Linked DNA regions of Homo sapiens: region 2 is linked to region 1. The links come from fine-mapping of genetic effects on gene expression. A gene starts in region 1. The other region holds a variant in brackets. All regions are shown on one strand. Distances are from middle to middle. Region 1 holds the start of UTP23 (UTP23 small subunit processome component). Region 2 overlaps LOC112268030 (a long non-coding RNA gene).

The links. PIP is the estimated chance that this variant, and not a neighbour inherited with it, causes the effect. A credible set is the group of variants that fine-mapping cannot tell apart.
Region 2: its variant is the best candidate, but not a certain one, in a credible set for the expression of UTP23 in whole blood (INTERVAL, PIP 0.80).

The regions. Positions count from the first base shown.
Region 1 is chr8:116,764,461-116,768,856 of GRCh38, reverse strand. It overlaps UTP23 (UTP23 small subunit processome component), which reads right to left and starts at 2,333. Exons shown (of 3, transcript NM_032334.3): 1 at 2,066-2,333. The coding sequence starts at 2,253. It also overlaps a transcript of EIF3H not described here. RefSeq lists enhancers at 1,947-2,256, 2,267-2,416.
Region 2 is chr8:116,801,484-116,805,879 of GRCh38, reverse strand. All of the region lies in intron 2 of LOC112268030 (a long non-coding RNA gene), which reads right to left. Among named protein-coding and RNA genes, the nearest start is that of UTP23, 37 kb to the right of the region's middle. The variant C/G (reference allele first, on the strand shown) is at 2,164.

The sequences.
Region 1 (4,396 bases):
TTGTCTCTGCTAAAAAATACAAAAATTAGTAGGACGTGGTGTCACACATCTGTAATCTCAGCTACTTGGGAGGCTGATGTAGGGAAATCACTTGAACCCGGGAGGCGGAGGCTGCAGTGAGCCATGATCGCACCACTGCACTCCAGCCTGGGCAATAAAGTGAGACTCCATCTCAAAAATAAATTTTTTTAAAAAACTTAAGTGACATATAAATCAAATGTAATATATGTATTTAGTTTGAATACTGATTTTTAAAAGCCTTCTTTATCTTTTCAAGATACATGCCAAAGAAGTGATAAATAATATGCTCCAAAGCAACCCATCAGTAAGGAGAGGTGAGGGATTCAACAAGATTGGCCATGTTAATAACTGCAAAAGCTGGAGAGAGGTTTCATTATATTATTCTACCTTTGAGTTGTCTGAAAAATTCCAGAGTTAAAATAAATTTGTTAGAAAAATTGCTGTAGAATATAATTTTATGTGGCACTTCTCAACCTTTTTAATATCATAGCACTATATTTAAAATGTTAATATTTCTATGGCACACAGGAGTATATGGACAAATTGCTTGTAGACAAAAGCAATCAATTCAGGAGCAAAGACTACTGAAGGATTTGTTAGACAGCCCTAAAGACTAAGGGGATCAAAACTTTGGGGGTATCTGTAACCCAGCCGAGACCCTGCTTGAGAAATTCTGAACAAATACAGATAGCTGTTCATTAAGTAATCGTATGTGAGGAAAAGGAGACTATTAACACAGTATACACAGAAAAAGCCCATACTTTGTTATGGCTGTAGTTAGAGATGGGGGTTTCCTACGTTGCTCAGGCTCACCTCAAACTCCTAGACTCAGGCAACCCTCCTGTCTCAGCCTCCTGTGTAGCTACTAGGATTACAAGTGTGAGCCACCTTGCCTGGCTTAAAAGTCCATTCTTGTGCTTGTGTGAGTGTGTATAAAGAACTGGATGGATGACACTGCACATGTTAACAGTGATTATTCGTGAGTAGTGGTATTATGAGTCATTTTAATTTTCTTTTTTTGCTTTTTAAAAGTAAATATTCTACAATGAAAAAACTACTAAATTTCTTAATAGTTCTTCATGGCCTAGCCTCAATTTGCCTTCTTCCTAGTTTCACTCCCAAATATATTCTGTGCTGCAACCTCTTTCCCAGGCATTTCATAACTCCATTTCGTGTGAAGAGGTCTCCACAACAAGAAGTGTCATTCTTTTCTGTCATTCAAAATAGTTCTTCCTCTCAGAACTGAACAAGTGAATGGGCTCAAATGTTATCTGAAATCTGTCACAATTCTCTCCTCTCTCCTCTTCATCCCGACAAGCTTCCATCCTAAGTGTTCCCACATTTCAATGAAGTGGGGAAACATCAGACCTAGAGTGAAAACACACACTGCAGACTGACTTATGCACTTTACTGGCCATGAGGGAGCAGTATGTGGCATATAGGAGGTACTTAATAAAGCGAGTTGAATAAACAAATGTGCTTGGGCAGATTCCTTAATCTCAAGTACTGACTTTTTGCCCTGGACATCAAAGATGGTAACTCACAGGTTCACTGTGAGGCTTGCAGAGTTTTGGTTTAAACTAAGAAAAGCTATGCAAATGACAGCAACCATTTGAAGACGGGTACACTTTGGATACCGAAAAATGCTCTAGTACACTATACTCGTTTGAGCTTACAGCAATCTTCTAAGCAGTTATCATCTTTATTTTACAAATGAGGAATCCGAGGCTCAGAGAGGCTAAATAACTTGACAGAAATCACAGAGCTGGTAGAACTGGGATCAAGATTCGAAGTCGGATCTCTCTGCTATAATGTGCTCTCATTCGCCAGGCTAACGACACGTGATATTCACAGGGCACTGTCCAATCTGCCTCTATTATAGGTATTCGCCTGACCACCTTCACCTCTCCACTTAACTGTCAACTCCACGTGGGCGGGGCGTTTTGCACCTCCTGAGCTCGCAATGAAGGTCTGTGAGCAACGGCCTCGCCTCTACAACACCCGACGGACCCTCTGTGCCTCCTCCCCAGCCCCCCGGGCCCACCTTGTGGTGCACAGCTGCGTCTCCCCCATGAGGTAGCGGGGCAGCTGCTCCCGCAGCTGGATGCGGCCCCGCAGCGCCGCCTGACAGAAGGTGCCGTCCAGCAGGATCTGGTACGGCTCGCGGACTCCGAAGTTGTTGCGGAAGAAGCCAAGATGCTTCTTGGCATGTTTCTGCCTTGTGATCTTCATGCCTGGCTTACCGGGACCGAGGCCACCGGACCAGGAAGCATCAGTAAACGCCTCACGCACGCCCCAGTACCCTCAATGCCAGTTTCACCCGGAAATGAAGCGCCTTTGGCCACGGAAGCAAACGCCTCTGTCTTCCGGGCCTGCCCATTGGTTTACGTCATGTCCAGACCAGCGCGCGCTTCCACCGCAGTGCCCGCGCTTAAAGGGGCGGTCCCTTAGGGCGGAACTTGTGCGTACGCTGGAAAACCGCTGGGGTGCGCGATTCCGCACGGGGGCGCACATGCGCAGTCTGGGGCCACGGTAAAAGAAAATTACGAGAATACATTTAGCGTGTTACCTACGTTTTAGAGGCGCGTAGCAAGAGCTTCTCTGAAAGACTGGCAGTATAGTAGTAGTCAGTGATAATATTGAGCCTTAATATGTTCCAGACACTGTCCTAAGTGATTTACCTTACATTATTCCCCTGAATGTTTATAATTCCCAAGTGAAAGAAGGAAATGATATATTGGATAGCTATGAGTGGGGAGGTTTGTACTGGCTGCTTTCCCATAAAGAAATTAAGCACGTTCACGAAGGGCACGTAGTTTGTTAGTGTCTGGAACCCAGTTTTCGTGCCTGAAGTTCAAATGTTCTTGCTACACCACCATAGAAACTAACGTCACTCAGGAACCATTTGTCAGGGCAAAGGGTGCCACCATTTTGCATTTCCTCCTGCCTTAGGACCATCCTAAATCACTCGCATGGAGTGTTTTGGAAGAACTCTCAAGAGCTTCGTTTGCCTAGAGTCAGAATTCCTAACCTTGAGTCCTGGTTTTGCCACAAACCCAAGCCGTTTGATCTTGGGCAACTCCCGAAGAAAGCTGGGTTCAACTTCCTCACTGTCAAACTGGTTGTAGGTCTAGATAAGTTTCAAGTACTCTTTTTATGTGCATGGTCTCTGACATAGGAAGACTACATACTGGGCCAGTAACAGGAAGGCACAAAGCTGACTGGAGGTTTAAAAATTACTTGGTCAATTTGATTAATGAGGAGAATGAATCAGAAAATTTCAAGTTCTCCCGTGGCTAACTGTCGAGTATCCACTTCAAGGTAAAATAATCAAAGAATGGGGAGTATGGAATTTTGCATTTTTGTCCTTGCCTGGAATCTGTCCCAGATCTAGTTTTGGCTAAAGATTGAAAGAACCAGCACAGAAAATGATTTACAACGTGATTGAATGCATTGTTTGCATTTGGGGTTTTATTTCAATATGTAGGTTTATGAAATTGGAATAAGATCTATAATGTTAGCCCTGATCTGAGTCCCAGCACATCACTTAGATGGTTGCTTTCATTTAAACTTAAAATGAATTTAGGAATTGGAAGCCATGAAAACTTTTGCAGGGTTGGATTCAAGGTCTTTGAGTGTAATTGCTCAGTACTTTTCAATTTGAATCCTCTTTTTATCCCTGTATGCCAACTCTCTACTCCAACTATGCGCCCACCACAGACAGAGAAACGAGATACCACCTGAGTCTTGCAAAACAGTTAAAACATTTTTTCTTAAATAGCCTCAGATTTATCTACCAGCTCCTTGGCCACTTTTCAGTACTAAGAAAAATGTGGTGCAGCACTAGGGATTTTAGTCTTATCTTAGTTTTTGTTGTCGTTTTTTAATTTACCAAGCTACAGCACATTTTTTCCCCAAGCTCTATGTATATGACAGTGCCAGTTTGCACCCTATCTTTATTATGAAAACATGAAGATGGTCTATAATGGTGATTATCAAGTTTAAAACAAAGTTTTCGGCCGGGCATGGTGGCTCATGCCTGTAATACCAGAACTTCGGGAGCCCGAGGCGGGAGGATCACTTGAGCCCAGGAGTTGGAAACCAGCCTGGGCAAAATAGGGAGCCCCTGTCTCTGCTAAATTAAAAGAAGACAAAAAGAGAAAAAAATAGAGTTTTCTATTACAGCAGTGTTTCTCAAAACAAGGTCCTGGGATATGCAGAAAAAGCTCTTAGTGTGCTTGTTTAAAATGCCCATTTCTGATTCAGAATAAGTATTGAGGGAGAGGGGTACTATTCAAAGAGGAAGTGACATTTATTACAATCTCCCCAAATCATTATTATGCTCATTAGTGTTCCTGAAGGACCTTTTTTGTAA
Region 2 (4,396 bases), 37 kb before region 1:
TTAACATTTGAGTCAGTGGACTGGGAGAGAAAGACCCACCCTCAATGTGGGTGGGCACCATCCAATCGGCTACTAGCGCTGCTAGAAAAGGCAGGTGGAAGAAGGTGGAATAAGCTGGCTTGTGAGTCTTCTGGCCTTTATCTTTCTCCCATGCTGGATGCTTCCTGCCCTTAACATCAGACACCAGGGCAGGAGTCTTAGACTTACACCAGTGGTTTGCCAGGGGTTCTCTGGCCTTCAGCCACAGACTGAAGGCTGTAATGTCAGCTTCCTCGATTTCAAGGCTTTTGAACTCAGACTAAGCCCCTACTGGCTTCCTTGCTCCCCAGCTTGCAGAGAGCCTATCGTGGGACTTCACCTTGTGATTGTGTGAGTCAATTCTCCTTAACAAACTCCCTTCCATATATACACACGTCGTATTAATCCCTAATACATAGCAGAACATAAAACCCAGCATGTGACCCTGTAAGCCTGCACAAGCCACACACCCATGAAGCCTGCCCCGAGAGGACACAGCATTTTTAGGACCCACACGGGCCCTGTCACCTGGAAGTAGAGTCATTAAACAAAATGAACGCTCCTTCTAATCCCATCCCCTGTAACCATGTGTGCACATTTTTACATAGACACTCTGATTACCGTGTTCCGATATGGTTATATAACTAACATTTAACTAGAATTTACTATATACCAGGCCCTGGACTAATTATTTTACATGCGTTATCTCATTTAATCTTGACAAAAACCCTAGGAAGTGAGAACTCCCGTCATTCCCATTTTGCAGATGAGGAATTTGAGGCTAGGGAGGATACCTTATTTGCCCCATATTTATTTGCTAGAACGAGGCACTCAGCCTGAGTAGGGATGAAATTGAGAGGAGGCAGGAGAGGAACTAGCCATGGGAGAAAAATTTAAGAAGCTGCAAAAAAAAAAAAAAAAACCCTCAGTAATTAAGATAGATACTACTTCAGCGCAATGCTTTAATTAAACAATTTACTTTGAGATTATTGTAGATTCACATGCAATTGTGAGAAATAATACTCCAGGCACCCTTTATGCAGTTTCTTCCAGTAGTAACATACCATATAGTACAATATCACAACTAGGTCATTTGTATTAGTACAGTCAAGATACAGAACATTTCCATCCCATCCACACAAAGATCCCTCATGTTGCCCTTTTATAAATACCCCCAACATTGCTCCCCATACCGCACTTCCCTTCCACCTATGGTCCAAAAGATCCCTAGAGCTCTACCTCCTATCTGGTGTATTAGAAGGTGTAGTCGTCCATTTTCACACTGCTATAAAGAACTGCCTGAGACTGGATAATTTAGGTAGAAAGAAAAAGGTTTAATTGACTCACAGTTCTGCTTGGCTGGAGAGGCCTCAGGAAACTTACAATTGTGGCAGAAGGCAAAGGGGAAGTAAGGACCTTCTTCACGTGGAGGCAAGACAGCGAGCAATGAGGTGAACTGCCAAACACTTTTAAACCATCAGATCTCGTGAGAACTCAGTCACTATCATGAGAACAGCATGAGGGAAACCGCCCCCATGATCTAATCACCTCCTACCAGGTCCCTCCCTCAACACGTGGGGATTACAATTAGAGATGAGATTTAGGTGAGGACAAAGAGCCAAGCCATATCAGAAGGAAAATGCGATGATTTCCATTCTCTGAAACATATCATTGTACCTCTAATGTTATTTCTACTTCTGGTAATGAGACTTATATTTGTTTTACAAGAAAAGCCATTGGAAAACGTTTTGTTAATATGTCAGAGTGACTGTCGCTGTTCCTTAAATCCTTCTCTAGCACCACAGAACCCAGATATAGAGGAATCTATGCCCTTTTTTACTCTGTGACAGTAAGACATATCTGATACCAAGGTCCGTATTTCCTAGTCATATACATGTTACCAATTATTTTATCTGAAGAATATTTTAAAATCATTCTTCTGCAAATTTGCTTAGTGTTTCCTCTACGTGTTACTCAAGGTTGTTTCCCTGGCTAGCAACAGTGTGAAAACTACGTGCTTCTTAAGAGGATGGGAGGGCTGGACACGGTGGCTCACGCCTGTAATCCCAGCACTTTGGGAGGTCGAGGCAGGTGGATCACCTGAGGTCAGGAGTTCAAGAACAGCCTGGCCAACATGGTGAAACC[C/G]TGCCTCTACTAAAAATACGAAAAAAAAATCAGCCGGGCTTTCTGGCGGGCACCTGTAATTCCAGCTACTTGGGCGGCTGAGGCAGGAGAATTGCTTGAACCCGGGAGGCAGACGTTGCAGTGAGCCAAGATCGTGCCATTGCACTCCAGCCTGGGTAACAGAGCAAGACTCTGTCTCAACAACAACAACAACAACAAAAAGGTAGGAATCACAACAGTCCCAGATGTAAGTCCCTGCAGGTGATGTTTGTAGAATGGAAAAGAAGCCTCATAGGTAATCAACAAAATGATACCAGATTGTGCTGGCTTCACCCTTGTCCACCCATTTAATTGCAAACACATGGAAGGACAAATCAGCTGACTCTCTGGGGTGAACCAGGCAGGGACAGAGCCTAAACCAGAGAGATACCAGATTTACTTGGCAAGACCATATTTTCCTGAGGTGCTTCAGACAACTTACAGATGACACAGCTGCAGGTCTTGGCTATTCAGATTTAGCTGCCTCATGGTGCAAGAAACTGCTGTGCAGAGGCAATGATCATTTTTATGAGTATGGTTCTCAAAAATCTGTGAAACTATTTGTTTTTGCTCTGTCTTGCTAAACCGCCCTTACCTGTTCCTCTCCTACAACTATAAACCTTGATTGCTGGTCAGTCAACACAGGCTTTGTCCACATCCACAAAAATCTAAAGACAGAACTAAGGCAATTACTAGAACGGTGCTTCACAAACATCCATGGGCATTCAAGCTGCCTGGGATATTGTTACGATGCAGGCTGTGATTCACTATGTCCTGAGTGGAGCCTGAGTTCCGCATTTCTAACAAGCTGCCAGGCATTGCTGATAGGGACAAGGACCCAGCTCACCAAGACCTGCAATTGAACTCCCTGAGATTAGATTCAGGCCATGATGAAAGAAACTGGGGTTTTTCTTTCTTTCTTTTTTTTTTAAGGGGCTTGGATTGACTTAGTTAAACAAAGGGCTTGTGGTCAGCTAGTGCCTCTCTAGTGGATGAGATCATAACATGTGAGAGGGCATGAAAAGGACATGAAGATGAAGTTTGTCCTGGCACTATTAGAATCCATGGTTGCAGTGGCCCCTGAAGCCCTGCTGAATCCCATGGAGTCTGGTTGTTAACAGTGCATTGGATTGCCAGAGCCAATAACTTCCTTGCTTTGCTTAAGCAGGTTGAATTGGACTCTATCTCTTAGAACCATGATTGCTCCAACGATTGCGTCCAAATTGTGATGCAATGACTTCATAAATTATCATATATCCCTACAGAAGAATTATACAGCTGTCAAAAAGTATTATTTCAAAAAACTTATTCGGATGGACAAATAATACAAGGGTAAATGACAAAGGCATAACATCAATGTATCTATACAGAATAATCTGAATTATATAAATTCGAGAAGAATATTAAGTAAATGCTCCAAAACATAGACAGTAGTTAAGGTCGACTGAATAACCCCCTCCAATATCTCCATATCCTAATCCCTTGAACATATGAATTTTATTTTATATGGCAAAAGAGACTTTGCTGATGTCATTAAATTAAGGACGTTGAGATGGAGAGATTATCCTGGATTACCTGGGTTGGCCCAATATGATCAGACTGGTCTTTATAATAACTCAGGAGAAGGCTCAAGCCTGTAATCCCAGCATTTTGGGAGGCTGAGGCGGGCGGATCATGAGGTCAGGAGATCAAGACCATCCTGGCTAACACAGTGAAACCCCGTTTCTACTAAAAATACAAGAAAAATTAGCCAGGCATGGTGGCAGGCACCTGTAGTCCCAGCTGCTCGGGAGGCTGAGGCAGGAGAATGGCTGAACCCGGGAGGTGGAGCTTGCAGTGAGCCGAGACTGCGCCACTGCACTCTAGCCTGGGCGACAGAGCAAGACTCCGTCTCAAAAAACAAAAAAAAAAAAGAAAACTCAGGAGAAGGCAGAGTTAGAGGAAAAGGGGATATGATGCCAGAAGCAAAATTGAAGATGAGGGAAGGAGGTTACAAAGAAATGTGGGTAGCCCCCAGCAACAAAAAGGCAAGGAAACAGGTTTTCCCTAGGGCCTCTAAAAGGAATGAGCCCTGCCCACACCTTGACTTCAGCCTGGGAAAGTCAATTCAGAATTCTGATCTCCAGAAGAATAAACTTGTGTTATTTAAAGCCATTAAATTTGTGTTAATTTGTTATAGCAGCAATAGGAAACTAACACAATAATTGGCTCTGTA